Linked DNA regions of Homo sapiens. The protein of the gene in region 3 interacts with the protein of the main gene of each other region in a pairwise test. Each region holds a gene or a part of one and is shown on either strand. Other genes may lie near its edges. The genes, in order: RNF19B, THAP4, MS4A1 and ACKR2.

What was found.
Region 1: the proteins of MS4A1 (region 3) and RNF19B interact in binary tests that used the Homo sapiens proteins (3 or more experiments, as listed by UniProt).
Region 2: the proteins of MS4A1 (region 3) and THAP4 interact in binary tests that used the Homo sapiens proteins (3 or more experiments, as listed by UniProt).
Region 4: the proteins of MS4A1 (region 3) and ACKR2 interact in binary tests that used the Homo sapiens proteins (3 or more experiments, as listed by UniProt).

Annotation. Positions count from the first base shown.
Region 1 is NC_000001.11:32,954,794-32,961,823, forward strand, and holds part of RNF19B (E3 ubiquitin-protein ligase RNF19B), read right to left. Parts: intron 1-7,030.
Region 2 is NC_000002.12:241,585,129-241,592,158, reverse strand, and holds part of THAP4 (peroxynitrite isomerase THAP4), read left to right. Parts: intron 1-7,030. UniProt on the Homo sapiens protein: Heme-binding protein able to scavenge peroxynitrite and to protect free L-tyrosine against peroxynitrite-mediated nitration, by acting as a peroxynitrite isomerase that converts peroxynitrite to nitrate.
Region 3 is NC_000011.10:60,458,840-60,465,869, reverse strand, and holds part of MS4A1 (B-lymphocyte antigen CD20), read right to left. Parts: intron 4,799-7,030; 5' UTR 4,710-4,798; intron 3,686-4,709; 5' UTR 3,496-3,685; coding exon 3,337-3,495; intron 2,869-3,336; coding exon 2,749-2,868; intron 1,583-2,748; coding exon 1,526-1,582; intron 1-1,525. UniProt on the Homo sapiens protein: B-lymphocyte-specific membrane protein that plays a role in the regulation of cellular calcium influx necessary for the development, differentiation, and activation of B-lymphocytes.
Region 4 is NC_000003.12:42,861,441-42,867,812, reverse strand, and holds the end of ACKR2 (atypical chemokine receptor 2), read right to left. Parts: intron 3,348-6,372; 5' UTR 3,311-3,347; coding exon 2,156-3,310; 3' UTR 527-2,155; downstream 1-526.

The DNA.
Region 1 (7,030 bases), on a different chromosome or scaffold from region 3:
ATAGGTACTTGTCACATTCAAACGTAGCTAAACACGTTCTAAAACTGCATGTGAGACCTTGTCCTCAAAGATATATGGCGTAAAAACATCGTACACTCTGTCCTACTTTCTGGCTTTTACATACTCTATTCCTTCTACCTAGAAATGTCTTGTCCTTACTTCTTGCCCTGACAAGTACCCATTTAAGAACCAACTCAGGTGTCATTTTCTCTGTAAAATATACTTAACCTCTCTAGGCAGCTCGTTGCCTACTTCGTGGGTGTGCACAATTATTTTATAACACTTACATTATAATGTAACTAACTGTTTATATGCTTGCCTTCCAAACCACACTGGACTTAAGGAGACATATCATCCACTTTTTAATCTCAGTCTAGTATACTGGTTCATGCTCAAAATACCTGTGTTGCATGAATGACAGAGACCCTCTCTTGTTTTGGTTGTTTGACCTTCCCTAGGACATTCTAGGTCTTCTCCTAGGCCATCACTCTGCTCTAAAGCAATCTTTTCAATGTATCCATGTATCTATTGGCTTATTATATGCCAGGTACTATAACCTAATCCTAAAATTTCATATAAACCCACTTTAGTGGTAAACCCCTAAGTTCTGAATACGGTAATCTTCTTCCCGAATAGTTGGAAAAAAAAAACCTCGCCTGGGCATGGTGGATCACACCTGTAATCCCAGCACTTTGGGAAGCCAAGGTGGGTGGATTGCTTGAGCTCAGGAGTTCGAGACCAGTCTGGGCAACATGGCAAAACCCCATCTCTACAAAAAAAAAAAATACAAAAATTAGCTAGGCGTGGTGGTGCATGCCTGTAGTGCATGCCTGTAGTCCCAGCTACTCAGGAGGCTGAGGTGGGAGGACGGCTACAGCCCGGGAGGTGGAGGCTGCAGTGAGCCAAGATCGTGCCACTGCACTCCAGCCTGGGAGACAGAGCTAAACCCTGTCTCAAAAAAAAAAAAAAAAGAAAAGAAAATACCTCATCCTTGAAACCCAATCTGCCCTGTCCACTTTGTTCCTTCTCTTCCACGTCCCATGCTGGTGCATCTCTCCTACTCTGCTCTTTTAGCTTAACCAATCAGTCAGGCTTGCTAATCAGAAGCTAAAAGAAAGGTGTAGAAAATTACATGCTGTGAAGAATACAGACACAGCTGGGTGCAGTGGCTCATGCCCATAACCCCAGAACTTTGTCAGGCAAAGGCAGGAGGATCACTTGAACCCAAGAGTTCAAGACCAGCCAGGGCAACATGGTGAAATCCCATCTCTACGAAAGACACAAAAATTAGGCCGGGCATGGTGGCTCATGCCTGTAATCCCAGCACTTTGGGAGGCTGAGGTGGGTGGATCACCTGAGGTCAGGAGTTCGAGACCAGCCTGGCCAACCTGACAAAACCCCTCTCTACTAAAAATACAAAAAAATTAGCTGGGCATGGTGGCGTGCACTTGTAGTCCCAGCTACTCCCAGCTACTCGGGAGGCTGAGGCAGGAGAATCACTTGAATCCAGGAGGCAGAGGTTGCTGTGAGCCGAGATTGCACCACTGCACTCCAGCCTGGGTGACAGAGTGAGACTCTCTCTTCAAATAACAACAACAACAAAAATTAGCCGAGTGTGGTGGGGCGCGGTGGCGTGTGGTGGCACATGCCTGCAGTCCCAGCTACTTAGGAGGCTGAGGTGGGAGGATCACCTGAGCCTGGGAGGTTGAGGTTCTAGTGAGCTGAAATTGCACCACTGCACTCCAGCACGGGCAACAGAGTTACAGAGTTAAACCCTATCTCAAAAAAATAAAAAATAATAAAAAAGAAAAAGACTACAGACCGCCCACCCCAGCCCCTGCTGCTTAAGTTCATACAACTTTTACTCATTTTATTAATTTCCTAAATCTTCAGAAACTTCATAAAGTGACAAGCTAGACCACAGCATTACTTAGCTTCAGCCCTGGAAAGAGATTTCCATTAGTATAAATTTGATTATGCTCCAATAGACTTCAGTGGTTAAAGAAATGTGTTCCTATATTATGTCTGTACTTTCCATCCCCAAGTCATGTAACATAACTAGGCTACCCATTTACAAATAGACCCCTAGTAGGCATCAGGGTGGTAGACATGCGCCAACTTGTCACAATGAACTGTACCCTTAACATCTTCATTTTTCCTGCCCTATTTAAGACCCATCTCTAGGCTAGACAACTCCAAGAGCCTCCTTATCTGCTCTCCCTATTCCCCACTCCATCCAAATTCCATTCTGGAAGGTTACTCTTTTGCTTAAAATCCTTCAAAGAAAAAGAAAAAAGAAAAAAAGTGCTTCAACCCAAAACTTATTTCCATGGCTTACACAGGCCTATCAACCTGAATCCAGTCCACGTTTTCAGGTTGATCTCTAGTCATTTCCCAGGTATGGGGTCTTGCTATTACCCAGGCTGGTCTCGAACTCCTGGGCTCAACTAATCCTCCCACCTCAGCCTCCTAAGCAGCTGGGACCACAGGTGCACACCACCATGCCTGCTCCTCTGTGAAGTCTTTCTTGAAACCATCATGCAAATTCTATTGTTCTTTCATCTATCTAAGAGCACCCGTATTTTCTTTAGTATTTATCATATGACATTTGAATAATTTTCTATCTATCTATGTATCAATTATCTGTCTCCTCTACCAGGTGAAACTTCCTATCAAGAAAACCATGTCTAAGTTCTTTTTGAAATACCCAGTACTCACCCAGGGTTCAACAGTGTATCATTCTGAAAGTATCTGTTGAAGCCAGGTGTGGTGGCTCACACCTGTAATCCCAGCACTTTGGGAGGGTGAGGCGGGTGGCTCGCTTGAAGTCAGGAATTCAAGCCCAGCCTGGCCAACATGGTGAAACCCTGTTTCTACTAAAAATACAAACATTAGCTGGACATTGTGGCACATGCCTGTAATCCCAGATACTTGGGAGGCTGAGGCAGAAGAATCGCTTGAACCCGAGAGGCAGAGGTTGCAGTGAGCTGAGATGGCACAACTGCACTCCAGCCTGGGCGACAAAGCGAGACTCCATCTCAAAAAAAAGTTGTCTGTTGAATTGAATGATCACCTGTCTATACTATTCTTGCTTATCTCTTTCATCTCTATTCTTCCTCTGAGAACTATGCTGCTCATATTTCTTATCTTTTTCATCAAAATTCATCTATGTACCACACTCTTCTAGAGCCTAATTGAAAGACTTTGTACACAGAGTTGTAGAAATGGTTGGAATATAGATATCCTAGTCTAGAGACATGAGCTCTCAATCTATTCAGAGCATAAGGTTTATGGTTAAATAAGGACACTAACCAAAGGCAGGCCAGCATGGTAACTATTAAAGGAGTTTAGGGAAAGTTTGAGTTAAGCCTTAAAGATGCTACAGAAAAAACAAAAACCTGTTTCCTGGTGATCTAAATTGGGGAAATTACATTATATTGAAGATTTATACTACATATTAGCATATTAGCATGTTTAAAGATTTAAGAAACTCATAAACTTGTTTTATTTTGTTTAACTCAGTATTTTCCAAGCTTATTTCCTCACAAAACATTTTTCTTTCAAGTAATGCCTATAACATACCTTAGGAAATAGTGATGTGAGTGAAAAATAGAAAATAAAATCAAAAGATGGTTGGAGATGGCCGGGCGTGGTGGCTCACGCCTGTAATCCCAGCACTTTGGGAGGCTGAGATGGGTGGATCACGAGGTCAGGAGATCGAGACCATCCTGGCTAACACGGTAAAACCCCGTCTCTGCTAAAAATACAAAAAATTAGCCAGGCATGGTTGCAGGTGCCTGTAGTCCCAGCTACTCAGGAGGCTGAGGCAGGAGAATAGCATGAACCCGGGAGGTGGAGCTTGCAGTGAGCCGAGATTGCACCACTGCACTCCAGCCTGCCTGGGCAACAGAGCGAGACTCCATCTAAAAAAAAAAAAAAGATGGTTGGAAACTGTAAAGGAGCTTAAATGATAAGGGTAGATCAAATAAGTTCTCAAAGACATAATAAGAACTCATCTTATAGGTTAGGTAGTCAATGAATAGTCTTAGGCAGGGGAGTGATACAGATGTTCTCCTTTAGTACAAGTACTTTGGCAAATCTGAGACAGATGTATTGGGATGGAGGTTGGTGTACGTGCACAAGAGGAGGGGGTGGTGTGGAGTTGGGGAATGCAGGGAAAAGTTGTGGAACAGGAGGTATGGAGCCAAATCAAGAGAAGAGGTTCAGGGAGGCTTCAGAAAGCAAAAATCCTCCTTCACTGACTGAAATTTGTCTTGCTCAAAGAGCTTGCTTGATCTTCCCTCATAAATGTGCTAGGGATGAAAAAAGCTTCCTGTTTATGGGATGGTCCAGTCTAGTTGTCTGGGAAGGCCAATAGCTGATACTGTTTCCTGGGATCAGGTGGGAGGAAGGATTCTGCAGAGGACAGAGGCAGCAATGAAAGGCTGGAGTGGTGGACCTGCACAAAGAATTTAGGTCAAGACAGCCTTATCCCTTCTTATTCATCTGTACAGAAGATCTGCCCCTGTACACCAGGAAATTTTCTGTTGCCTACTTTGCTCACCCGTCAGTCTCCTAGAGATTCTGAAAGGGTTTTAAGATTAGCAACAGGATACTTGAGAGGAAAACATTACAGTTACCTGACTTCGGGGTTTCTGAAAAGACATACTTGGGCAGAGACTCAAAAGCGTAAAAGATCAATTGTACCAATTATTAGCAATGAAACACTAGGCCCCATGTTTAAACTTCTCTGAACTGGTTTCTCCTTTATAAAATGCACGCCAATATCCACCTGGATGAGACTAAAATGAAATTATGTCTGAATGAGATTATAGTCTGAAGACTATAAAGAACTATAAAAAATCAGTTATTTGTATTTTGAACTAATTTTATCTCATTTGACAGCTTGTTTTAAGATTATACTAGGCCATATTGTTCTTAGTATATTAAATAATAATGTGAGGCCGGGCACAGTGGCTCACGCCTGTAATCCCAGCACTTTGGGAGGCCGAGGTGGGCAGATCACGAGGTCAGGAGATCGAGACCATCCTAGCTAACACGGTGAAACCCCGTCTCTACTAAAAATACAAAAAAAAAAAAAAAAAAAATTAACCAGGCGTGGTGGTGGGCGCCTGTGGTCCCAGCTACTCAGGAGGCTGAGGCAGGAGAATGGCGTGAACCCGGCAGGCAGAGCTTGCACTGAGCAGAGATGGTGCCACTGCACTCCAGCCTGGGTGACAGAGCGAGACTCCGTCTCAAAAAAAAAAAAATTATAATGTGAATGTTTTCCCACTGAAATTGGTTCCCTTATTTATGAATAAAATAAAACCATATTTGAGTGTAAGAGAAGAAAAATCCAAAACTCTTTGCTCTATCCTACAAATATTCTGTAAACAAATCATGAATCTCTGAATGTATGGTGTTCTTGTTATTATGAGTAATTATAGTAAAACTAATGATCAGAACCTGTAAGATTGCTCACATGCCCCCCTCACCCTACCAAATGCACATACAAACAAGGCAGAGGGGAGACCTGATCAATTTGGCTGGCAAGAACTTTATCTGTGGGCAGTAAAGATGGTCAGGTATGGGAATAGGAGGTAACTGGGACTTGGACTTCTCTTCTAGTGTTTATCAATGACCTCTACCAGCCCCAGAAGAATAGAACGATTTGTTTAAAAAAATAAAACAAAGGAGCAGTGTGCAGTGGTTCGTGCCTATAATCCCAGTTACTCAGGAGGCTGAGGTGGGAGTACTGCTTTAGTCAAGGAGTTCAAGGTTGTAGTAAGCCATGATCATGCCACTGCACTCCAGCCTGGGCACAGAGTGAGACTCTGTCTCTAAAACAAAACAAAACAACACTGTTCAAAACAAAACAAGGGAACCATGACATCCAGTAAGAACACAGAAGCTATTTTTTTTCCTGGCATTAAAAAGAGGCAGCAATAATCCCAGCACTTTGGGAGGCCAAGGCGGGAAAACAGCTTGAGCCCAGGAGTTCGAGACCAGCCTGGGCAACACAGGGAGACCCTATCTCTACAAATAATAATAATAATATTAATAATAATAATTAGCTGGGCTTGGTGGCATGCACCCGTGTTCCCAGCTACTTGAGATGCTGAGGCAGGAGGATCGCCTGAGCCCAGGAGATTGAGGCTGCAGTGAGCCGTGATTGCACCACTGCTGCACTCCAGCTTGGGTGACAGAGCGAGACGCTGTCTCAAAAAAAAAGAGATGCAAAGCCACTAGGCACATCCCAAGGGAGAACTCAGGCATCTATTTGGCAACTAACAGAATTTTAAAGTTACTCCCTATAACCACTTTCAACTGAAGATCTCAAAACACCGTGTAAACATTAATTAAACCTCTCAAGTCAGGAAAGAATTAGACCTATTTCAGATAAGAAAAATAACGTAGGTAGGAGGCTGTTAACAACAGGAATCAGAAAGGAAACTAGACTCTAGTATCTTTGGCTTTCTCCATGTTGTCCTCAGGCTACACTTAATGAAATGCACCCAAGCAGCAGCATCCTCAATAATGCGGCTATGTTGACAAGCAAATGCTTTTTAAAACAGGGGCTGAATGGAAGGAATATTGGCATTGGTTGGAATTAAGACCCCTGTTCTAAGCCTGGTTCCACCACTTACTAGTTATATGACCCTGAACAAGTCATTCAATTTCCTTAAACTTTAGTTTCCTCATTTATAAAACTATATCAAACCTAAACCTATCTCACAAGGTTGTATCGAATTAAATTATATATACCTGGCACACAGGTATTGAGAGGCCAGCTTTCTTCTTTCCCCAAACTCCACCTTAAGTCCGTAGATGACACATATAAAAAAATACATTGTTTATATATATAACTATATATATGATTATCATTCTTCTAACTAATTAAAAAAATAAAATCTGGAGGATACTAACATAATACTTGGCTAAAATAAGAAATGGCCTAATTTTTTAATAACTTCCAAATAGTTGAGAGTTGTCACCAAGCTTGAAAATTATTTTCTGTGCATTTTTATTG
Region 2 (7,030 bases), on a different chromosome or scaffold from region 3:
GTGGGTGGCTCTGGACCTAGCTTTGCAGCCTGGGCTGCCACCGGTGACCTGCGAGCTTGAGCATCTTTTCACGTCGTTGCTGGGTCATCCTCCAGCGAGGTGCCTGTTCAGGTCTGGTGACCATTTCCACTGTGCCTTTTCTGGCTGACATGTCAGAGTTCTTTATATGATTTGAATAAAGCTCTGTTAGCTAAATGTGTTGCAAATAGCTTTTTCGGTCTGTGATTATCTTTTGAGTTTTACAAATTGTTTTTGAAGAACAGAGGTTCTGGATTTTATGTGGTTCAGTTTGCCAATCTCTTCCTTTATGGATTCTGTTTTTAATGTCTTAGTTAAGCAGTCTTTCCTCACTAACAGGTCAAAATATGTATTCTGAATTTTTCTGGAAGCTTCACAGTTCAACCTAAAATCTTTCCTTTAGGTCATTAATCCACCTGGGGCTGAGTTGTGTGTATAGTGTGAAGTGCTGTCCCCTCTCCTTGTTCTCAGATGAGGGCCAGCTACCCTGCACCCTGCATGAAGAGCCCGGCCCCCCTGTTCACCCATGCAACTGCCCCCTGAGCCCCTCAGTATCCTTCATCAGGGGTCTGCTTCTCACCCTCTCTCTGGTTCCAGGTGGTCTGTTTGTCAGTCCCTGTGCCAATACCACACTGTCTTCATTATCATGGCTTCTACTTTTTAAAAATCACCTCTATTGAGGTATACTTTATATGGAATAAATGCATACACTTCAAGTGTGCAGTTTGATACATTTGGACAAGCATATATAATCTTGTAACGCTGCGCCAGTCAAGACTGAGAACAGTCCCAGCACCCTAGAAAGTCCCCGTGCTCCACAGGCAACCCCCGCTGCCCTCTCAAGCCCCCGGCCTGGTTTCTGCCACTGTAGACCGAGCAGCTCTGAGTGTCCTAGTGCCCATGATCATCAGCCGAGCAGTTCTGAGTGTCCTAGTGCCCATCATCATCAGCCGAGCAGCTCTGAGTGTCCTAGTGCCCATCATCGTCAGCCGGGCAGTTCTGAGTGTCCTAGTGCCCATCATCGTCAGCCTGGCAGTTCTGTCTGTCCTAGTGCCCATCATCATCAGCCGAGCAGCTCTGAGTGTCCTAGTGCCCATCATCGTCAGCCGGGCAGTTCTGTGTGTCCTAGTGCCCATTATTGTCAGCCGAGCAGCTCTGAGTGTCCTAGTGCCCATCATCGTCAGCCGAGCAGCTCTGTGTGTCCTAGTGCCCATCATCGTCAGCCGGGCAGTTCTGTGTGTCCTAGTGCCCATCATCGTCAGCCGGGCAGTTCTGTGTGTCCTAGTGCCCATTATCGTCAGCCGGGCAGCTCTGCGTGTCCTAGTGCCCATTATCATCAGCCGAGCAGCTCTGAGTGTCCTAGTGCCCCTCATCATCAGCCGGGCAGTTCTGAGTGTCCTAGTGCCCATGATCATCAGCCAAGCAGTTCTGTGTGTCCTAGTGCCCATCATCATCAGCCGAGCAGCTCTGAGTGTCCTAGTGCCCATCATCGTCAGCCGGGCAGCTCTGCGTGTCCTAGTGCCCATCATCATCAGCCGAGCAGCTCTGAGTGTCCTAGTGCCCCTCATCATCAGCCGGGCAGTTCTGAGTGTCCTAGTGCCCATCATCAGCCGAGCAGCTCTGTGTGTCCTAGTGCCCATTATCATCAGCCGAGCAGCTCTGAGTGTCCTAGTGCCCATTATCATCAGCCGAGCAGCTCTGCGTGTCCTAGTGCCCATTATCATCAGCCGAGCAGCTCTGAGTGTCCTAGTGCCCCTCATCATCAGCCGGGCAGTTCTGAGTGTCCTAGTGCCCATCATCATCAGCCGGGCAGCTCTGAGTGTCCTAGTGCCCCTCATCATCAGCCGGGCAGCTCTGAGTGTCCTAGTGCCCATTATCATCAGCCGAGCAGCTCTGAGTGTCCTAGTGCCCATTATCATCAGCCGAGCAGCTCTGTGTGTCCTAGTGCCCATTATCATCAGCCGGGCAGCTGAGTGTCCTAGTGCCCATTATCATCAGCCGAGCAGCTCTGAGTGTCCTAGTGCCCATCATCGTCAGCCGAGCAGCTCTGCGTGTCCTAGTGCCCATCATCGTCAGCCGAGCAGCTCTGCGTGTCCTAGTGCCCGTCATCGTCAGCCGAGCAGCTCTGAGTGTCCTAGTGCCCATCATCGTCAGCCGAGCAGCTCTGAGTGTCCTAGTGCCCATCATTATCATCAGTGGAGTCACAGCACACAACTCATTTGTTTCCGGTCTCCTTTCCTCACTGAAACGCTCTCAAGATTCAGCAGTTCTGCTGCATGTGCCACGTCTGCTTGTTGCTGTGTGGTGGTCCACCAGTGAGCTTGTCAGTTTTGTTTATCCTTTCTGTTGATGGATGTTTATTTTATTTGTTTCCAGTTCCGGGCTATTAGGAATAAAGCTGTAAGCATGTGTAGACCTAACTTTGTGTGGACACATGTTTTTTTTCCTCTTGGGTGCATACCTGGGATTGGAACTGCTGGGTTCTGTGGTAAGCACCAATCTCTTCCAGAGTGGCTGTCCCCCTTGACACCCCAGCAAGGTTGTCCCACAGCCTCGCCAAGGGTTGGCCTTTGAGTTTTATCCTGGCCACTACAGGGTGGTATTTTATTGTGATGTTAATTTGCACTTCCCTGCTGAGTAACGATGCTGCTCATCTTTTTGTTGTACTTATTTGCCACTTGTATTTCTTGTTTTGTGAAATGAACATTCAGATTTTTTGCCCATTTGTTTAAGTGTTTGTGTTATTCCTGAGTTGTAAGAGCCTGTTGTTTGTTCTGGGTATAAGTCCTTTATCAGGTGTACTTGCCAACACGATATTCCTATCCTGTGCCTTGCCTTTCTGTTTCCTAGACAGTACCATTTGAAGAACCAAATGTTGTTTTTTTTGGTGGGGGTGGGGGGTTTCTTTTCTTTTTCTTTTTTTTTTTTGAGACATTGTTTGCTCTCGTTGCCCAGGCTGGAATGCAATGGCCTGATCTCAGCTCACTGCAACCTCTACCTCCCAGATTCAAGCGATTATCCTCTCTCAGCCTCCCAAGTAGCTCGGATTACAGGCTCCCACCACCATGGCCGGCTAATTTTTTGTATTTTTAGTAAAGACGGGGTTTCACCATGTTGGCCAGGCCGGTCTCGACCTGACGTCAGGTGATCCACCCTCGTTGGTCTCCCAAAGCGCTGAGATGACAGGCGTGAGCCACCATGCGCAGTCTAGAACCAAATGTTTTAATTCTGTTACCATTTTTTTTCTCTAGTCAGTGCTTTTTGTGTCCTGTCTTAAAATTTTTCACCTAGCCCAGGCAGCAAAGATTTTCACCTGCATTTTCTTCAAGAAGTTTTATAGTTTTAAGATATATGCTATTTGGAATTGCTATTTCTAGATGGTATGAGGTAGTAGTCACGTTTTTTCCATTTTTCCTCATACAGATACCTCGTTTCCAGCACCATTTGTTGAAAAGAGAACCCTTAATTTATTAAAGTATGCAGTGCTTTTGTCGAAAATCAACTCACTTTGTGTGTGTGGTTCTTCCCCAGGACTCTCTCTTCTGTCCCACTCTTCTCTGTTTCGGTCTTTATACTGTTACCATGCTGTCTTGATCATTGTAGCTTTATATTGAATCAGGTGATAGAAGTTACCCAACTTTTCTTCTTTTTCTTTTTTCCAAAATTGTTTTGGCTATCCTAGGACCCTTTGCATTTCCTTATGAATTTCAGAATCAGCTTGTCAGTTTCTAGAAACATTTTCATTGGAACTACTTGAATTTCTAAATTAATTTGGGAAGAAGTGCCATCTTAGGCAAACTGAGTCCTCCAATCCAGTGCCATGGTAAGGTGCTCCATTTATTTAGATCAGTCTCATCCTATATTTTCTTGTAGTTTTCAACGTATTGGTTTTGCACACATTTTGTTAAATTTATTCCTACATATTTTGTGGTTTGGGATGCTATTATAAATGATTTTTTAATTTTCCACTTATTTGTTGCAAGTATATAGAAGTACAATTAGCTGTTGTATATTGATCTCGTATCATGTGACTTTGTTAAATTCATTCATTTCTGTAGTTTGTTTCTTTATTTTTCTTCTTTTCCTTCCCTCCCTCCCTCCCTCCCTTCCTTCCTTCCTTCTTTTCTCTCCTTTTTACTTTTTTCTTTCAATAAAAACAAGGTATTCTGTGTTGCCCAGGCTGGAGTAGAGTGGCTATTCTCTAGTGATTTTTTTCTTTTTTTTTGAGATGGAGTTTCTCTCTTGTTGCCCAGGCTGGAGTGCAGTGGCGCAATCTTGGCTCACTGCAACCCCCACCTCGCCAGTTCAAGTGATTCTCCTGTCTCAGCCTCCCGAGTAGCTGGGATTAAAGGCATGTGCCACCACACCCGGCTAATTTTGTAGTGATTTTTTTTTTCTTTGAACAGGGTTATTTAGAGATATGTTACTTATTTTCCAAATAATTGAGAATTTTTTAAATAGATTCTATTGCTCAGGATTTTTCATTCAATTCTATAAGGCCCAGACAACATACCCTCTAATATTTTAGTCTGTTAAAAAATGTTGGAGACTTATTTTACGCCCCAGTATATGGCCTAACTTCATGAATATTTCATGTACACTTAACGAATGTAGCATTCAATAGTTATAAAAGTCCCCTCCACAAGCTGGAAACCCTGGGATGCCAGTGTCATGGCTCAGTCCAAGTCCAAAGGCTTCAGAACCAGGGAAGTCAGTGGTGTCACTCTTGGTCCTGGGCCAAAGGTCTCAGAGCCCTGAGGAGAGAGGAGGTGCTGGTGACATCTGGGAGTCCAAAGGTCGGGGGGCCTGGAGGTGTCCAAGGACGGGGGAGGAAGAGTGTATCCCAGCTCCAGCAAACAGATGGACATATTCGCCTTATCTTTGTTTTTATTTTATCTGGGCCCCCAGCCTATTAGATGGTGCCCACCCTCATGGAGGGTAGATCTTCCTCACCTGGTCAGTCACCTCTGGAAACATCTTCTCAGACATACTCAAAATAATCCTTTACCGGGTTTCTAGGTGTTCCTTAATCGGTCACCTTTGACCTTTGACACCTAAAATTAACCATGACACCCACACCCACCTCTGGCTGCTTTCAAGTTTCTATTTTCTTGCCTTTGATTATCAGCCAAAGTTTTGCTGTGATATAATTAGAATTTGTGGCTTGATATATTTTGTTAGGCTCAGAAAATTGGCCATGATCTTTTCAAATATTGCTTGTGTTCTGTTGTCTTTCCTATCTTCTTCTGGGTCTCTGGTTACACATGTGTTCAGTCTTTTGCAATTTTCAATGTGTCCCTTATGCTTTCATCCATATTTTCCATTATTCTCTAAGCTTCAATGTGGATATTTCCTACTGATCATTTTCCATTTTACTAATCCTTTCTTCATCTGTGTCTAATTTGTCTATTTCATTATTGGGGCCTTAATTTGAGTTATTATGTTTTTCAGTTGTAGAATTTATATTTTAATCTTTTTGATAAATTCTGATTACCTGCAGAAATTCTCCATATTGTCTTCTAATAACTCCAGTATTGGTATCCCCTGGGTGAGGGTGGGGGAGGTGTCTATTTCCTGTTTTTTCTTTTGATCTTATCTCCTAGTAACCTAAGGAGTTTTTCTTTTTTTCTTGGATTCTAGACAATATGTGTGAAAAATTGTAGAGATGACTTGAGGCTTCCTTTGATGTTATCCTCACCAAAGAGCAGTTCTGTGCTTCTGCCTGTTGGTCAAGGATGGACAGCTCGTGTTCAGTAGAGGCTGAGCTGGTTTGAAACCGGACTTCCCAGCCTGTTTCTGGTTAACTCTTACTCCTGGGATGGGACCCTTCAGGGACCCCACCCAAAGCTGGGGTGCTTTTTTTTTTTTTTTTTTTTTTCCTCTTCAGATGGAGTCTCGCTCTGTTGCTCAGGCTGGAGTGCAGTGGCGCGATCTTGGCTCACTGCAAGCTCCGCCTCCTGGGTTCACGCCATTCTCCTGCCTCAGCCTCCTGAGTAGCTGGGACTACAGGCACCCGCCACCACACCCGGCTAATTTTTTTTGTATTTTTAGTAGAGACGGGGTTTCACCCTGTTAGCCAGGATGGTCTCGATCTCCTTACCTCGTGATCCGCCCGCCTCGGCCTCCCAAAGTGCTGGGATTACAGGCGTGAACCACCGTGCCCAACCTCAGGGTGCTTTTTTTCTTTCTTTTTCTTTTTCTTTTTTTTTTCTTTTTTTTTTTTTTTTTGAGAAGGAGTCTTGCTCTGTCACCCAGGCTGAAGTGCAGTGGCATGATCTCGGCTCACTGCAACCTCCACCTCTTGGGTTCAAGCAATTCTGCTGCCTCAACTTCCCGAGTAGCTGGGACTACATGTGCATACCACCATGCCCGGCTGCGCCTCTCCTCCTAGATGGACACTGAATTCCAGTGTTTGTCCCTCCAGCTCCATGAGTCTGAGAAGGCCCCACTTAGCTTCTCAGCCTCTTAGCTACCACATCCCTCTCAGCCTCCACCCCTTGAACCCCTTGACTTCCGGGCAGCAAAAGCATCGGGGCCAGTTGCTCCAAATTGGGTCTCACCTCCACACTTCCTTCTCTTTGGGGTGCTGGTCCTCGCTGACTTGGTGGTTCTCTGACACCTTTAAAGAAACTTCTTAAAACCTGGGTTGTTATCTGCAGGAGGGTTGGTCAGTTACAGAGTAGTCAGCCATGGCCATAAGCAGAACTCCGTTTCATCCACTTCTGGTGCCCCCCACCCCACATGACCCCCCACACATCTGGGGCACTAGAGAGATAGTGCCCATCAGAGAATTGTCTTTTGACAGTGGTCACTCTCACAATTTGCCGGCAAACATTCTGGGCATATAGGGCTGACTCATTCGGGACTTAGCTGCCATAGGCTTGGATTCTTGTTGGAAACAGCTGCTATAATTTATTCTGATGAATTACTGTTCCAAAGATGGTATTTCTGAGCTTTCCAAGAACACACTGGACATCAGTTCTAGTTACAGTGAAAGTGGGAGGCAGTGGAG
Region 3 (7,030 bases):
CATAATCTGGGAGGGAATTCCAAATGCAACTGCCCTGACTCACAAAGCAACTACAACTAAATATACTGAAGTTCTCTCAGTTGTTTTTAGCCTCTTTGTCACTATAAAATAAAATCATGTCTCTATCCTGTTCTTTTCTCAGTCTTCCCTATCTCATTCACCATCCATCTGTTTTATAAAGCAAAAATTCTAAGAGTAACCCTTGATTCTATATCTTGTATCCTTGCATTTCCTTCACTGCCACTGCCACCATCCTAGTAGGCACTCAATAAATGTTTGTTGAATAAGTGAAGATAAATATTATCCAGTTTATTATCTGCCTTCATAAATAGGTAGAGGGAAGAGAGTGAAGAAGTTTCTTGTATCACACTTTAGTGGGATGGTATTATGAAGTATAGGTTGGGAAGGTTCAGATAGAACCCTCTAGATCTGTACTATCAAATAAATGGAAATAAAAAAAGCAGAAGCAACAACAGTAACAACATCTATTCCTGCTGACATAGGTTGCAATCAGCCCCAGTCAGCTATCTTCCAAAATACAATTAGGGCTGATGTCTTTGGGTAGCATAGGTAAGAAAATATCAGTGTGAATGTTCTACCTTGCAGGGATGATAAAAGGTTGAAACAGGAAAATATAAATAACAAGTACCATAATGATATGGGATTATTGATTATTATTTTATGCTGCGCATATTTCATTCCTGGCTCTATGACCTACACATGGCAAGTCAGTAAATCTGGCTGTATCTAGAGAATAATTTGATGTTCATAAAAAGTTTTCCCCCCAAACTGAGTGTGTCAGGCCACTTTAAGACAGGAACCATCTCAATCCACCCATTCCCTCATTGATTATGAAAGTGACACAGTTTAGTAACAGTGTTGGGGGAGGAATTTTTTGGGAGCGAACTTGCTGCTAAACTCTTTTCATCCATACAGCATCAGCAGCTCTGCAGGCCAGTTTCCTCTGGATCTAGATGAGTCCCTAGGGGTTTTATGGGCAAGACCACAGTGTAGTACTTTATAGCCTGTGAAGCACCATCACACACTCTACTGCCTTTCATCTCCATTGGACGTCACATGGTAGCAAGGACTGTTACCCTTCCTTTCTAGGTGAAAACTCAGGAACATAGAGGTAAACTGACTTGTTCAATGTTACGGCCAAAAAATGGCTTAGCTAGAATTTGAATCAATCATGACATTGATCAGATAATTTTCCTAAATGGTGATCTGGGAGAAATGATAGGGCTTTCAGAAAGGTCTATTATTTTCACACAGCATTTAACGTTCTTAAGACTGTAGGTATGGTTTTCATGGATCTGCTTTTAGTTCTGTTCCCATGAACATACTTCAGATAGACCTCGCTTCTAAGTTTTTCATAAATAAAATCACAATAACATTGTGGAGGGTCTTTGCTTTTTAGGGCTGAGAGGCTGTGATACCTTGGCTTTTTAAGGGTCTCAGTTTTTAACCGAAAAAAATAGGTACTTCTCTGACATGTGGGAAAGAAGGACATATGGTTACTTGCCAAACACTTCCTGGAGTTTTTCTCCGTTGCTGCCAGGAGTGATCCGGAAATAATATACTGTAAAAAAGAGAGGTGGGGGAGATGGAGAGGGGGTGGGCAAGACAGGAGATAGAGGAGAGAGGGAGATCACTTTTTAACATTGATAACTGGTCAGAAAGAAGCCTACACTTTCAGCAACTTTCACACAACCATCCACCCATTTTTATCAGTTGTATTCATTTTTCAGCTGTCATATTCCTCCTTTATTCAGGCTCAGTGACACTAAATTCATGCCTTTTACTCAATCATCTGGGGATCTGTGACTAGGAATATAGTAAGACCAAAGAGACAGAACTCAAATTTCCTCATCAATTAATACTCATACCATAAATTTAAAAGTTTTATTTCTAGTTTTTCTTTGTTTTTAACTTGTGGAACTGCCCTTTGGGGTTCACAGTGACATAAATGACTCTGATGCCCTCTGAAGAGTGAACTGATGCAGAAGGAAATACTTGACCTGAATGGCACAGGCACTCCATGAAAACATTGGCTGTTACAGGAAGTGATGATGACTATTGCTCATCTTCCTTTTCTCACATTCAGGCTGTAGAATGGAGGAAACTCTTGTTCTAACCCATCTCTACTTGTTTGGAAAATTTTAATCCTGGACTTATCTTTTATAGTGGCAACTATGAAAAGTATCACGGGGAAATAAACATCACTGTCCTATGTGCCACACCCAGACAGGGTTACAGATTTGGAAAACATGTACGTAAAACAGCCAAAAGAGTGCTGCTCTGTCGATAAGCAAAATGAGACTGACTTGTGATGGGACAGGTTTCACCAGGTACCATAGTAACCAAACAGAATTGTAAGCAAGAAGGGGTAGATGGAAGTGGATGTTCCTGCTGCCTCTTGCTTTCCAAAACATCTTGCTATCTAGTCTAAATGTCTAGGGCCACCCTCCCCACCAGAACTGACTTTGGAGAGTTCTTGCTTTGGACAGTCCCTGTGAGATCCATGCAGGGCCCCTTTCTCTGAATTCACATGAAACAGGACCACTGACTCTCAACCATGGGATTTATACTCAATTTGGTCAACCTGTCTTCTTAATTACTTTAACCCAATAATATTTCCTACTCATATATTTCCCTCAACACAGAAATAATCTGGCATATCCCTGTGGAGCCTTTTAACATTTTTGTCTGCACCATTTCCCAAATGGCTGCTATTCTTTTACTCACCATAATGCCTCCCCAGAGAGGGTACCACACAGTCACACAGATGGGTGCATAGATCCCTGCTGGGATCATCAGAAGACCCCCCAGGGCAATGTGGAAGAGCCCATTCATAATCTGGACAGCCTGGGGAGAGAACAGAGGCAGCAGTGGATGAGCTGAAATCATCACTGCTAGCAGGCAAAGACAAGGTTGGAAGCTCTGGCTCCTGACTTGGAGCTGTGAGGAATGCCTAAAGGAAGCAGTGGAGGTGCCAAGAATTTTGTCTTTTTCTTGTTCGAATCTGTTTCCTCAACCACATGGGGCATTTCCAGGGAGCAGGTATGCCTGGGATTCTGGCAATGGACTGGGATGGGGGACCCCTGCATATACAAGCCCCAAAACCAAAAGGTGACATAAGATCACCCAGAGGTGATCTAAGTGATAACTTCTCTGATGCACCCCTGATTTGGCCCACTGTGTTAGACATAAAGAAGACATCAGGTTGGATCCCAATTCTTCAAATTGGATTGAATTCTGTATGTGGCCTATACCGCATCAGCTTCTGTCAGCCAGAGAATCCCTACGACATGGGATGGAAGGCAACTGACTTACCCCCAAAGTCTTAGATTCCCTCATGAAGAAGCTTTGCGTGGGGCCCACCAGTGAAGACATCCTCCTGAAGAGTGGTTTTGGACCAGATTGCATAGCAATAGGGCCTTTCATTGGCTCTGCCGGGAAAGTCCCATTTACTGAATTTCTGGGTGTTGTCATTTTGCTCTCAAAACTCCTAAAAATAAAACAAATAACAAAATGAGGAGAGCAAGAACAAGATTTTTGGCAGTCTTACCTTGTGTCATGCATCTGAATGCTTCTCTCAGCATTTCCTCCATGAGTGTCATTGAGGGTAGACATGGCCTCTTCCGAGTGACCTTGGATCTGAGGCAAGGCCTACTGCTGAGTTCTGAGAAAGGAGATGGAGGGGTTGTTTAGGAAGAGCATGTGGGCCCAGGAGTCCCTGCCAGTGATCTTGACAACTGGGTTTGGGGCATTCTTTATCTTTGTAGAGGACACCTTGCATATATGACTGCATGTCCTCTTTGTTTCTTATTCCTGGATGCTTTTCTTTTGCTTTAATATTGAAAAATGTATTTTCAATGGACTTGTCCTTGTCCTTTTGCTTATCTGCCTTTGTGCATTATGATGGGCCAGAGGCAACATTGCAGAGTATGGTAAGGACTATCTGTAGAAGCAGGAGGGGTCGATTCCAGGCCTCTCTCTGTCTCTAACTCTGCCACCTTGTGCAAGTCACATCAAGAAGGCTCTCTAGGTCGGGCACGGTGGCTCATGCCTGTAATCCAAGCACTTTGGGAGGCCAAGATGGGCAGATCACCTGAGGTCAGGAGTTTGAGACCGGGCTGGCTAACGTGGCAAAACCCCATCTCTACTACAAATACAAAAATTAGCCAGGCATGTTGGTGTGCACCTGTAATCCCAGCTACTCGGGAGGCTAAGGCAGGAGAATTGCTTGAACCCAGGAGGCAGAGGTTGCAGTGAGCTGAGATCATGCCACTGCATTCCAGCCTGGGTAACAGAGTGAGACTCGGTCTCAAAGAAAAAGAAAAGGCTCTCTAAGGCTTTCTAATGCAGTATATAAGACTGTGGCCTCCTGAGTCAGATTGCCTAGGTTTCAATAGTGATTCCTCCATTTGTTCTGAGATGTTGGGCAAGTTCTTTAAATTCTCTGGGCCTCAGGTTCAACTGTAAAATTGAAATAATAATAATTCTTATCTCGTGGGCTGCTATAACACTTAACTGGGCTCATGGTCTGTGCATGGCTAGTGTCTTTTTGTTCAGGTGTAGCTCAAATGTCAGCTCCTAGAGGAGCCTACCTTGAACCCTCAATCTATAACATGTACTCCTATTTGCTGTCTTTTACAAAATCCTATCTTAATTGCTTTACGGCATTGATCACTGTAGGAAATTACCTTATTTATTTAATTGCTTATTGTCAGTCTCTTCCCCACAGAATGGAAGTTCCATCAAAGTAGAGATTTTGTTCTCTCTTGTTCAGGATCTAAAATAATTTTTGGATTTAGTTACTTCTTAATAAATATTATTGAAGAAATAAATGTATGCAAAGAACCCATGTTGGAATAAATAGTTATTTTTGTTGCTATTCTTGTTCTTTGTACTTTGCTGAGCATTAGTTTCGATTTTATCCTTCTGTAAAGTTAGAACAGTACCCCTCTCTGAGATGTAAGACATAAATAAGTTAACATATGTAATTGTGCCTAGGACAAAGGGAGAGTGTAGTAAATGCTATTTATCAGTTTTCATGATTTATTCATTTCTGAAGTGAGAAGGCAATTAATACGGCCCTTTCCAGCTCAGACATTTTAAGATTCTGTTCAATCTTCATCTTGGGTTTCCTTAGCATTCACTTGTTCATGTTAACCACTTATGCGGACTCCACTGGGTCTTTCCTGGAATCTGAAAATCCCTCTTTTGGGGACACATCTTTGCTCTTGTCTTTATTGCTTGTAAGTCATGTAAGATGTCTTGGAAATCAAGACTGTCTATCCAGGTCACATATCTTACTGAAGCCGGTGCCACATCCCAGCCATTAGACCACAGCCTGAAGTATATCTTACTGAAGTCAATCAGAGCTGAGTAGCTGCAGGTGTGCTGTAAAACAGGCAGCTGACTACTGTCACATTTATACCTACTTTAGGGCTGGAAGTAAATTTGACACATGGCATCTCATCTGAGCCTTATAGAACAGGCAAGGGGTGAATCATCACCTGTGTTTTATAGAAGAGGAAACAAGGGCACGGAGAAGCTAGGTTACTTGTGCCAAGTTACATAATTAGTAAATATTTTTTGTTTGTTTGTTTGTTTTCATGACAGGGCCTCGCTCTGTCGCCCAGGCTGCAGTGCAGTGTCATGATCACAGCTCACTGCAGCCTCTACCTCCTGGGCTCAGGTGATCCTTCTGCCTCAGCCACTGGAGTAGCTGGGACCACGGGCAACCACCACCATACTCAGCTAATTTTTATATTTTTTTTAGAGATGGGGTCTTGCCATGTTGCCCAGGCTGGTCTTGAACTCCTGGACTCAAGCAATCTGCCCCCCTCCACCTCCCAAAGTGCTAGGATAACAGCTGTGAGCCACCATGCCCAGCCTGTAAAGATTTAAAATGAAGACTTGGATCTCTCAAATTAGGCATCCAGGGTACCAGGCTGCTTTGTCTCCTGTGAGAAATAGGAATTCAGCCTTTCCCTTATGACCCCTCTTTTCTCCTTCCAATATATGCACTATGTGAATGACTATAAATCAGTTGAAAAGTATTATCTGTCTGGCGCATGGGCTAGAGGAAAGAGAGAAGAAACTTTGGTTGTTTCTCACTTGATTTTGCCCCTGCCCTAGATAGCCAGATGCCACATGGTCCTGGGGATCTGCTTTGTACAACAAGCCACTCTACAAGACCTCTAACAAAAACAGATATTTTAATATAGCCCACTAAAGAGTTTGCGGACTGATTCTGGTCACTAGGTAGGATTTCTAGAGCTAGTCCAAACCTCAGAAACCATTCTGTTCATTTCACAAATGAGGAAGCTGCAGTCTGGGTATAGAATTTGCCTTAGTAAAGACCTCACAGTTAGCAACAGAGCCAAGCTAGAAGGCACTCACCATGGCTCTGATGTTGATGCTTTTTCTGCTGTACCATAGGTGAGTCCAGATAATTATAGTTGTTTACTGAGCACCTACTATATACTAGAGATATTGTATATGGTATTGCCAACTCACTCAACACCTTCGTAAGTAGGCATTTTGACTACTTTCTGCAGATGAAGAAATGGAGGTTGAGAGAGGTTATTTTTCCCAAGGTCCTATGGCAAGTATGGAATGAGCTGGGAGTCACTACACTCCGCCCCAGAGGGGTAACTTTAGTGAAGATAACTTAAAATGCAAAGGTCATCAATTGTTTGAACTGAAGGAGATGATTGGACTGCCATTGTTTTAATTTCATTTTATTCATCAACTGCTTGATTAAAGCTGTGTCTGTATTATTGGCGAGATAAACTTTTTTGTAAGCCAATTCTACTTGGGCTATGCCTGTTGTAACTAATGGCAATAATGACCATGAGGGCTGTGTGTGTGTGTGTGTGATATTTCTCTGTTAAAATGGTATCTCATGGTGGCAACTATACTTCTACAAACCTTAAACAAATATTTGTATAAAATAGTAGTTTATAAAGAAACACATGAGTGCTTTCTCTGTTTTTTTATTTCTTATGGAAACTAT
Region 4 (6,372 bases), on a different chromosome or scaffold from region 3:
TAAAAATAGAGCATCAGGAAGATCAGGAGCGTCAGAGATGGGCCAGTTTGTGTTAAATAGGTTGGACAGGTGAGTGAAAGGTGGTATCTGAGCTAAGACCTCAGAAGGTGAGAGAGTGAGCCAAGCAGACAGCTGAGAGGAGAGCAATCCAGGAAGAGGAATCCCCAGGGGGATGTGTCAGGAGTATTTGAGATCAGTTGTGTCTGGAGCACTGGAGGCTGGTGGACATAAGGGCAAAGAGTGTAGCCAGGGTGAGGGCAGATCACATAGGCCTTAAAGGATTACCGTAAGGAGTTGGGCTTGTTAAGTAAAAACTATGGAAGGCCATTGTTTTGGACTAACCTCCTGCACTAGGTCCCAGCTGACCAGACCAAACCAAAATGGAATCTGTCGTATTAAAGTTCCATGTCCTCAAACCAAAACTAAGTTGTTATCTGACCTTTGAGACTCCTGGAGACAGAGTTAACAGCCAAATTCCCAAACATGACAGTTTCAGTTGGCGTAATAATGCAGACAGTAACCATGCTCATGATAATGAAGTTCCCCGTTTTAATCATTATTAAAAAGTAACCTGAAGAAAACTGATGTCAACCACCCTGTTCCGGCCGCATATAGAAAGTAACTTTGAAATGATGAATCTGGCCCTGTGCAGTGGCTCACGCCTGTAATCCCAGCACTTTGGGAGGCTGAGGCAGGCAAATTGCTTGAGCCAAGGGTTTCCAGTCCAACCTGGGTAACATACTGAGACCCTGTCTCCACAAAAAATACAAAAATTAGCCAGGTGTGGTGGTGTGCTCCTGTAGTCCTAGCTACTTGGGGGCTTAGATGGGAGGATCACTTGAGCTCAGGAGGTGGTGGCTGCAGTGAGCCATGATTGTGGGATTGGACTTCAGCCTGGATGACAGAGTGAGATCCTGTCTCAAAAAAAAAAAAATCAATCTTTTTTTTTGTTCTTCATTTCTTTCTGCCTTTGACAGCCCCTTCCTGTCTATAAAACTAACCTCTTCTACCCAGCTCATTGCAGCACTCTCTGTATTTTATGGAGTGAATCTGTTCCTGATTCAATGAGTCTGTTGCCTGATTCTAGAATTGCCAATAACGCTAATTGAGACCTTTAAACTAAATTTGTTGTAATCTGGTGTTTTGACAGGCTGCTGCTCTGAGGGAGGCGGAAGTAAAGGCCGAGAGTATCAGGATCACTCTGGCTGCTAGGTGCAGATGAGATGGGAGGAGAGCAAGAGAGAGGAAGGACAGGGGCCAGTTGGAAAACTATTACAGCAATTCTCCAGCCTGGCCAACATGGTGAAACTCTGTTTCTAATAAAAACACAAAAATTAGGGCCAGGCATGGTGGCTCACACCTGTAATCCCAGCACTTTGGGAGGCCAAGGCGGGTGGATCCCAAGGTCAAGAGATCGAGATCATCCTGGCCAACGCAGTGAAACCCCATCTCTACTAAAATTATAAAAATTAGCTGTGCGTGGTGGCACGCGCATGTAGTTCCAGCTACTCAGGAGGCTGAGGCAGGAGAATCGCTTGAATCCGGGAGGTGGAGGTTGCAGTGAGCCGAGATCGCGCCATTGTTGTCCAGCCTGGGCAACAAGAGTGAGACTCCGTCTCAAAAAAAAAAAAAAAAGAAAAGAAAGAAAGAAAGAAAAAAAATACAAAAATTAGCCAGGCATGGTGGCAGGTGCCTATAGTCCTGGCTACTTGGGAGGCTGAGGCATGAGAATTGCTTCAACCCAGGGGGAGGAGGCTACAGTGAGCGGAGATCTCGCCACTGCATTCCAGCCTGGGTGACAGAGCAATAGAGCAAGACCCTGTCAGAAGGAAGGAAGGAAAGTAGGAAGGGAGGAAAGGAGGAAGGGAAGAAGCGAGGGAGGGAGGGAGGGAGAGAGGGAAGGAAGGAAGGAAGGAAGCAAGGAAGGAAGGAAGAAAGATTGTAGCAATTCAGAAAAGAAAGCGTGGTATCCTGGAAGCAAGTGAAGAAAGTGGAGGAAGAAGGCGGGGCGAGCAAATGCTGCTGATGGCTGAGAACTGAGAACTGACCACTGGGTTTAGCAACACAGTCACTGAGGCCCCTGGAGAGAGCACTTTGAGTGGACACCCAATTGAGCTGGTTCCCATCTGTTCCCACCAGACCAAAATTTGGTCACTCAGGCTGATTTATTCCCCACATCCTCCTTGTTAGGGTAGTTCTCAGACTGCCTCTCTCCAAGGTCATTCATGCCAGTCATTTCCTCTTGGGCAGTAAGTATGCTGCTCTCAGAACAGCTGGATAATGAGGCCTGGGCAGTGCCAGGTGCCAGGTGCCATCCAAGCACGGCAGCCAGGAAAGCCTTCAGGTACTGGCGGAAGCGGTGACTGGAGAAGGCATACAGGATGGGGGAAAAGCAGCAGTGAAGGAAGGCGATGCTCTCTGTTACCTGGAGTGCGTAGTCTAGATGCTGGCTGACCTCACAGTTCCCGAATACTTGCAGGTCCAACAGCGTATGCAGAAACAAGGTGAGATTGTATGGGAACCATAGCACGAAGAAGGCCACCACCAAGGCTGCAGCTATTTTTAAAGCCCGGCCCTGGCCTGCGGGCCTCAGCCTCACCAAGACACAACCAATACGGGAGTAGAAGAAGATCATGGCAAGGAGTGGAAGGAGAAACCCTAGGAGGTTCTGCTGGAAGCGGAGGAAGAGCTTCCAAATGGTCCCATGCCCGCCGAAATCTGCGTGGCAGTTCCACACACCCTTGGGATTTTCATGTGTCTGTACAAAGACCATATCAGGGATGGAGACGGCCAGGGACACAGCCCATACTATGGTAGCAAGGAGCAGGCTCTTGGCCCGGGTCCTCAGCCTGTGGTAGGGCTGAGCATGAACGATCTCCAGGTACTTGTCCAGGCTCATGCAGCTAATGAAAAAGATGCCACTGTAAAAGTTAATAGTATAAAGAGTGCTCACCATCTTGCACAAGAAACTCCCGAAGACCCAATGCCAGGCCACGGAGATGCCCCAGAAGGGCAGTGTCACCAGAAACAGAAGGTTGGAGATGGCCAGATTCAGCAGATAGATCTCAACCATCCGCCTGCGAGGCACGTAACGGAGCAAGACCATGAGAAGAAGGAGGTTCCCGCTGAGGCCCAACACAAAAATCAGGCTATAGAAGACTGGGAGGAAGACTTTGCCAAAGGACACCACTGCATCCTTCCTGCAGAGCATGAAGGCCACTTCATCCAGGTAGTCATAGTAATAGAAGCTGCTATTCTCAGAATCGGCATCCTCAGTGGCGAGTGGCTGCGGAGAGGCAGTGGCGGCCATGTTGGAAGGAAATGCCCAGTCCCGACGTCCTGTAGTGCTGCGGGGGGAAAATATGGTGAGACCTAGCATTCTCTACCTTTCTCTAAACCCACTTTTGCTGCTGCCCTGGGATGTCCAATAGACTCTTCAAATCTACATCAGTACCTGCAGTCCAGCAAGTAAGAGCAAAAGCTTAGGGAGCCATCTGCACCACTTAATAGTTATGTCACCAAGATATCCCCTCACCTTTGTCTTATAACTGAATCCCACTTACTCTGGGACACTTACTCTTGGATAAGTGACTAACCTTCAGGTGTTCTCAGAGTATTTAATTATTTCATTATGGTTTTGTTTCTTCATTTAAAAAGACCTATAGTGTCTTTCAAATTCTTCTTTATTCTTTAGGGATATCAATTCATCTATTTAATGTGTCTCCTGACCCTTCCTCATGTATGGTTTATAATTTCTTTAATGACAGCTTAGCTTCAGTGGGGCTTTTTTAAAAAATTTTGTTTATTATACTTTAAGTTCTGGGATACATGTACAAAACGTGCAGGTTTGTTACATAGGTATATACATACCATGGTGGTTTGCTGCACCCATCAATCTGTCATTTACATTAGGTATTTCTTCTAATGTTATCCCTCCCCTAGCCCCCAATCCCCCAACAGGCCCAGATGTGTGATGTTCCCCTCCCTGTGTCCATGTGTTATCATTGTTCAACTCCCACTTATGAGTGAGAACATGCAGTGTTTTGTTTTCTGTTCTTATGTTAGTTTGCTGAGAATGATGGCTTCCAGCTTCATCCATGTCCCTGCAAAGGACATGAACTCATCCATTTTATGGCTGCATAGTATTCCATGCTGTGTATGTGCTACATTTTCTTTATCCAGTCTATCATTGATGGGCATTTGGGTTGGCTCCAAGTCTTTGCTATTGTGAACAGTGCTGCAATAAGCATATGTGTGCATGTGTCTTTATAGTAGAATGATTAATAATCCTTTGGGTATATACCCAGTAATGGGATTTCTGGGTCAAATGGTATTTCTGGTTCTAGATCCTTGAGGAATCACCACACTGTCTTCCACAATGGTTGAACTAATTTACACTCCCACCAACAGTGTAAAAGCATTCCTATTTCTCCACATCCTCTCAAGCATCTGTTTTATCCTGACTTTTTAATGATCATCATTCTAACTGGGGTTAGATGGTATCTCATCTCATTGTGGTTTTTATTTGCATTTCTCTAATGCCCAGTGATGATGAGCTTTTTTTTCATATGTTTGTTGACTGCATAAATGTCTTCTTTTGAGAAGTATCTGTTCATATCCTTCACCCACTTTTTGATGGGGTTGTTTTCTTCTTGTAAATTTGTTTAAGTTCTTTGTAGATTCTGGATATTAGCCCTTTGTCAGATGGATAGATTGCAAAAATTTCTCCCATTCTATAGGTTGTCTGTTCACTCTGATGATAGTTTATTTTGCTGTGCAGAAGCTCTTTAGTTTAATTAGATCCCATTTGTCAATTTTGGCTTTTGTTGCCATTGCTTTTGGTGTTTTAGTCATGAAGTCTTTGCCAATGCCTATGTCCTGAATGGTATTGCCTAGCTTTCTTCTAGGGTTTTACGATTTTAGGTCTTATGTTTAGGTCTTTAATCCACCTTGAGTTTATTTTTGTATAAGGTGTAAGGAATGGGTCCAGTTTCAGTTCTTTGCATATGGCTAGCCAGTTTTCCCAACACCATTTATTAGATAGAGAATCCTTTCCCCATTGCTTGTTTTTGTCAGGTTTGTCAAAGATCAGATGGTTGTAGACCTGTGATGTTATTTCTGAGGCCTCTGTTCTGTTCCATTTGTTTATATATCTGTTTTGGTAGCAGTACCATGCTGTTTTCGTTACTGTAGACTTGTAGTATAGTTTGAAGTCAGGTAGCGTGATGCCTCCAGCTTTTTTCTTTTTGCTTAGGATTGTCTTGGCTATATGGGCTCTTTTTGGTTCCATATAAAATTTAAAGTAGTTTTTTCTAAGTCTGTGAATAAAGTCAGTGGTAGCTTGATGGGGATAGCATTGAATCTATAAATCACTTTGGGCAGTATGGCCATTTTCACGATATTCATTTTTCCTATCCATGAGCGTGGAATGTTTTTCTATTTGTTTGTGTCTTCTCTTATTTCCTTGAGCAGTGGTTTGTAGTTCTCCTTGAAGAGGTTCTTCACATCCCTTGTAAGTTGTATTCTTAGGTATTTTATTCTCTTTGTAGCATTTGTGAATGGGAGTTCACTCATTATTTAGCTCTCTGTCTGTTACTGTTGTATAGGAATGCTTTTGATTTTTGCACATTGATTTTGTATTCTGAGACTTTGCTGAAGTTGCTTATCAGCTTAAGGAGATTTTGGGCTGAGGCGATGGGGTTTTCTAAATATACAATCATGTCATCTGCAAACAGAGACAATTTGACTTCCTCTCTTCCTATTCGAATACGCTTTATTTCTTTCTCTTTGCCTGATTGCCCTGGCCAGAACTTCCAATACTATGTTGAACAGGAGTGGTGAGAGAGGGCATCCTTGTCTTGTGCCGGTTTTCAAAGGGAATGCTTCCAGATTCTGCCCATTCAGTATGATATTGGCTGTGGGTTTGTCACCAATAGCTCTTATTATTTTGAGATATGTTCCATCAGTACCTAGTTTATTGAGTTTTTAGCATGAAGGGGTGTTGAATTTTATCGAAGGCCTTTTCTGCATCTATTGAGAAAATAATGTGGTTTTTGTCATTGGTTCTGTTTATGTGCTGGATTACATTTATTGATTTGTGTATGTTGAACCAACCTTGCATCCCAGGGATGAGGCCGACTTGATGGTGGTAGATAAGCTTTTTGATGTGCTGCTTGATTTGGTTTGCCAGCATTTTATTGAGGATTTTTGCATCGATGTTCATCAGGGATATTGGCCTGAAATTTTCTTTTTTTGTTGTGTCTTTGCCAGGTTTTGGTATCAGGATGATGCTGGCCTCATAAAATGAGTTAAAGAGGATTCCCTCTTTTTTCTATTGTTTAGAATAGTTTCACAAGGAATGGTACCAGCTCC